Linked DNA regions of Homo sapiens: region 2 is linked to region 1. Evidence: fine-mapped expression QTL. Tissue or cell type: whole blood. Region 1 holds a variant in brackets; the other region holds the start of a gene. All regions are shown on one strand. Distances are between the middles of the regions.

Evidence for each region. PIP is the estimated chance that this variant, and not a neighbour inherited with it, causes the effect.
Region 2: it holds the start of CSNK1E, and the variant in region 1 is fine-mapped to the expression of CSNK1E in whole blood (TOPMed, PIP above 0.99).

The regions. Positions count from the first base shown.
Region 1 is chr22:38,633,589-38,636,344 of GRCh38, reverse strand. All of the region lies in intron 6 of FAM227A (family with sequence similarity 227 member A), which reads left to right. Among named protein-coding and RNA genes, the nearest start is that of FAM227A, 21 kb to the left of the region's middle. The variant G/A (reference allele first, on the strand shown) is at 1,686.
Region 2 is chr22:38,316,218-38,318,828 of GRCh38, reverse strand. CSNK1E (casein kinase 1 epsilon) reads left to right here and starts at 1,396. Exons shown (of 11, transcript NM_152221.3): 1 at 1,396-1,669. All of the region lies in intron 5 of TPTEP2-CSNK1E (TPTEP2-CSNK1E readthrough), which reads left to right. RefSeq lists a silencer at 1,679-2,068.

The sequences.
Region 1 (2,756 bases):
GGCTTGCAGGTGTCTGAGCTGAGCTAGGAACCCTAGCCCAACCTCACTGCAAAACCTAGATTCCTTCTACCAGAGCAACGGTCTTCAGACTGTTTTGATCACATATCCTACTGGTGTGCAATTTTTATCACAAACCCTCATTGAAACGTGTCTGTTTATAAATTATATACTTATTCTGTTGCCAATCACTACAATGCATATGAGTATGCTTAATCTCTCTTTTTTCTTTTCTTTTCTGTTTCCTTCTTCCCTCCCTCCTTCCTTCCTTTCTTTTTTCTTTCTTTCTTTCCTTCTTTCTCTCTCTTTCTCTTTCTCTCTTCTTTCTTTCCTTCTTTTTCTTTTTTCTTACTTTTTTGAGACAGGGTCTCCCTCTGTACCCAGGCTGGAATGCAGTGGCACTATCATAGCTCACTGCAGCCTCAAACTCCCAGACTCAGGTGATCCTCCCGCCTCAACCTCCTGAATAGCATGCACCACCACACTGGCTAGTTTTTAAAAAAATTTTTTTGTAGAGAGGAGGTCTTGCTAGGTTGCCCAGGCTATTCTCCAACTCCAGGGCTCAAGCCATCTTCCCCTCCCCATCCTCGGCCTCCCAAAGTGCTGGGATTACAGGTGTGAACCACTATGCCCAGCCAATTGCTTTTCTTTCTTATGTAGACATTAGTTAGAATATTTTCTTCTCATGCCTCTGGGGGTGAGTATGCTTCCTTGCAGAGCTGCGCACTAGAGCATGCTGGGTTCCTTGGGAAGAAAGCAAGGAAGTATTCTAAGGCCCAGAGGAACCTGTTTGCTCAGGCGACACAAACACTGGCAACTCTGGAGATGGGAGATCCTTGTAGGGAGGTCTTGGAGAAGGGAGGAAGCCCAGGAAATGGTCTCGGCCACTGTACAGCTGTGCCTCATGGCTCTTCATCACATAACTCTTGTCCCCAAAGCAGCTCTGATCATTGTCCCCTGAGCTCCTAACCAGTCACCCCACCATTCCTGAGACCCAGCATCTCAGTCTGTTCTACCTGTAGTTCTCACTGCTGCTTTGAGCCACACCCCATCTCTCTATCTCTGTCTCCCTCTCCTTCTCCCCATGCCCTTCCTTCCTTTTTTTTTTTTTTTTTTTTTGAGACAGAGTCTCGCTCTGTCGCCAGGCTGGACAGAGTGCAGTGGCGCGATCTCAGCTCACTGCAAGCTCCGCTCCCTGATTCAGGCGATTCCCCTGCCTGAGATTACAGGCATGTGCCACCACACCCAGCTAATATTTGTATTTTTATTAGAAACGGGGGTTTCACTGTTGGCCAGGCTGTTCTCGATCTCCTGACCTTGTGATCCGCCCGCCTCAGCCTCCCAAAGTGCTGGGATTACAGGTGTGAGCCACTGCGCCCGACCCCCTCCTCTCTTCTTCATGGCTTCTTCCTGCTGCCTTCTCTCTGGGCTATGTCGGTCCCATCTGTTTCTTACATTCGGACTTCCTAAGAGAGATGATCTGTTTGGGCCAGTCACTGCCCAGAATGACAGTGCTGTTTGCTGGCATGGCCTGCAGTCAGTCAGTGGAAGGGGCGCTGGTCTCTGGGCCTGGCAGCGGTGGCCCAGGTGTTGGGTACCTGATTCCCTTTGCTCCTGCTTTCCTCGGGAGAGGCAGTAGGAGGGACAGGTGCTCAGAGCATCACGTTCCCTACAGGACAGTGTACAAA[G/A]ATGCTCACCACAGTGTTCGTTACAATAGCAAGGAAGTGGAAAGCAGTACATCTGGGTGGTTAAGCGCCTCTCTGAGCTTTAATTTCTTCTCCTGTAAAATGGAGATAAAATCAGTCTCTACCTTGAGGTGTTATTGTGAAATAAATAAGATAATGCATGTAAAGGTGCCTAGCACAGTGCTAAAAGTCATAAATTCTAAGAAAACGGTAGTTTGTATGATTAGTGTTATTAGAAACAGTTTAATGGTCAATAATAGAGGAACAGCATGGTCATTTTTGACATCTATATCATGGACTGTGTAGCCATGATAAAATGTGATGATAAAAGTGAATGTTTATAAAGAGTGTATGTTAACATTTCATGCTGTGTTGTTGAATGAAAAGTATCAGTATGGAAAACTCTCTACAATTCAATCTTTTTTTTTTTTTTTTTTTTTTGAGACAGAGTCTTGCTCTGTCTCCCAGGCTGGAGTGCTGTTGCACAGTCTCAGCTCACTGCAACCTCCCCTTCCTGGGTTCGAGCACTTCTCCTGTCTCAGCCTCCCTGAGTAGCTGGGACTACAGATATGCAGCCACCATGCCTGGCTAATTTTTTGTATTTTTAGTAGAGACAGGGTTTCCCCATGTTTGCCAAGCTGGTCTTGAACTCCTGACCTCAAGTGGTCCACCTGCCTCCGCCTCCCAAAGTGCTGGGATCACAGGTGTGAGCCACCACACCTGGCCAATAATTCAATCTATGTAAGTGCACACGTGGGAAAATTTTAAATGAAATACATAGATATTACCACTGGTCTCTGAGTTACAAGGTTATAAGATGATAGGCCGGGCACAGTGGCTTACGCCTGTAATCCCAGCACTTTGGGAGGCAAAGGTGGTTGGATCACGAGATCAGGAGATCAAGACCACCCTGGCCAATGTGGTGAAACCCTGTCTCTACTAAAAATACAAAAATTAGCCAGGCGTGGTGACACACACCTGTAATCCCAGCTACTCAGGAGGCTGAGGCAGGAGAATTGCTTGAACCCGGGAGGTGGAGGTTGCAGTGAGCCAAGATGGCACTACTGCACTCCA
Region 2 (2,611 bases), 320 kb after region 1:
AAGCAAAAAAAAAAAAAAAAACTTTGGGGATTAATTAACAAAACAACAACAGAAAGCACCGCGCAGGCCAAGTAAAGCCCACCACCTGGCTGGTGACCCCCTGCTCTGGCAAAGGTGTCACTGAAGGCAGGCCCTCCTGGGAGGAGGCTTCTCACTCTCCTGCTCTTGGAAATGGGCTCTAGATAGACCCAGTTTCCTGGTGATCGCTGGGAGAACAGAGCTGTCCTGTTGGGCTTTGTGGTCCTGGGCAAAGCCCTTCCCCTCTCTGGGCCAGTTTCCTGGCCGGCGAAAGGACTTAGTCTGTGGGGCTCCTGCCCGTTTGGACACGTGTGTGACTCAGTCCCTCAGCCTCGAGGAGGGAAGATACGGCTATTATAGAAGTGACTCCTCCCAGGAACTGTGCTTCCGGGATTGGACGCAGGGCCTCAGGCATTTTGCGTGTCCACAGTCACAACTGTGTGAATATAGGTGTGTCATAATTGGAAGCTTTGCATGGCTCAGTGTAAATATCATCACTTTAATGACTTTGTTCTGCAACCTTTCATCGCGGCTCTGCATGCCGGTAGAAGCTTTTATTAATTCTGTGACCTGGGGAGGACAGGGTCCTTCCTCCCATTTGCTGTTTAAGGAAACCCAAGCTCAGAGCTGGGAGGTGGCTTGGCTAAACGTGCACCACTCGGAGCCCAGACTCAAGTGTCGGTGCTTTGGTACTTGTGGCACCCCTCCTTCAACAGGGGAGAATGAGGTTGGGATCTGAGGGGTCCTCTCTGTGCCCATCACAGTTTGAGCTTCAGGGAAAAGAAGAAGAGGTCTTTGCCCTTCGTTTTTCCACGGGAGGAGAATGTATGAGCCCAGGCTACCTTTCTGGGCCTTGTGTCGACATCCCTAGCTGTCTCCTCAAATCTCTTGCCCTGAATCAACCTGGCCTGTGTTCTCTGCGGCACTCGGAACCTGGAGGCGGACTGAGCCTCCAGCAGTCTAACATCTTTTGCAGTGTCGTGAATAGCCGCCTGTTTTCGCAGGGGCCCAGTGCTCTGCCTGGAGAGGAGAGAGATCCTGGCAGGCGGGGAGAGGAGACTTTGGGTCTAGACCCTCCCCTCCCATCCCCTCACCTCCGCTTTTTGTGCGCCCTCCTCTTCCCTCTGTCCCCCCCGCACCCCGTCTTTTCCACCTGTGCCCTGGACTGCATTAGGGTGTCAGTATCTGTGTGCTCCCCCACCCCCACGCGTAAGCCCGCGCGCCTGCACTGAGGCTGGGGAACTGCGTCTCGCAGCTGCGGCCCCCAGCGCGGAGGGCGCGGGCCCTTTAAATCCTCCGGGGCGGCGGCGGCGGGCCGGGGATGACATCAGCGGGCGGGCCCGGGGCTCAATGGGAGCCGGCGGGCGCGCGCGGTGCGAGAGCGCGCGAGCCGGCGGCGGGGGCGGGCGGGCGGGCAGGAGGCCGGGAGGAGGGAGGCGGCGGCGGCGGCGGCGGCGGCGGCGAGAGCCCAGAGCCAGAGCCCGGCCGGGGCCGAGCGGAGCGCGGCGGCGGCGGCGGCGGCGGCGGCTGGGCCGGGAGAGGCTGGCGCGCCGGGCGGCTCCGCGAATCCTCCGGCATCCGCCCCGGCGGGCCGCCCCCGCCCGCGGCAGCCCCCCGAGCAGTGGCCCGGCATCGGCGCCTTCCCGGCGGGGTAAATATCGGGGGGCCGCGGGCCCGCGGAAGGGTGCAAACCTGGGGGGAATCGGGCTCCCTCAGCCTCTTTGTTTTTGCTGGAGAGGGAGGGAAGGGAGGGCAGACACACGCGCGTTCGCGCTGGGGTGTAGGGGGGGCAGCCCGGGCGCCGCCCGCTCGGCCCGGCGAGGACAAAGGCGCGGCTGGGGACGAGGAGGAGGGGGCCTGTTATTTTGCAGGCTCGCGGGGGAGGCCCCCCGGCCGGCCTGCCTCCGCTTCCCCCCGCTGGGCCCTCCGAGGCCCCGGCCGGCCAGGCGGCCACCCCGGCTGTGATTTGGGGACGCTGAGGGAGGGGGCTTGGGGTGCTGGGCGCCGGATACTGTTGATTCGGGCCCGCGTAGCGTTTCATCGGACAATCACCGGCGCCCCCTGCTCTCCCGGCCCCGGCGCCCGGACCTGGGGGTTCGCAAGGCTGCGCCCGCTCGTTGGATGACGGGCGTTTGGGGGTCCTAAGGTGAAGAGGTGTGTGGTCACCAGGCCACTGATTTGTTTTTCTTTGTGGAGAGAAAGAAAGGGGTGGGGGTTATTTGTCGGATCGGATTCTCCCATTTTTGTGTGAGAGATTGATGTCTTGCAAGTCTCTAAGGAACGCAAAACAGTGTCTGGGTGTCGTTAGAGGATTCCCAAGCTCTTGTTAATACCCTAACTCGAAGTGGGGTGAGCCCCCTCCCCAACTTTTCCCTTAGTTTTCTTGCATATTTTCTTCCTGGCATAGCCTCCTTCCTGGAGAAGGATTTGGAGAGAGGAGAAGGGGACACAAGTGTCTCAAGTTGCTTCCAAGCAATGCCTGTGTTTGGGTCTCCTTTGCCTTCGTTTCTATGATGTCCCTTCAATTTTTATTTTAATCGTCCGAGGGACAAGGGCCCCGGCTCAGGGGTAGGCGATGGTGTTCGGGGAGTAA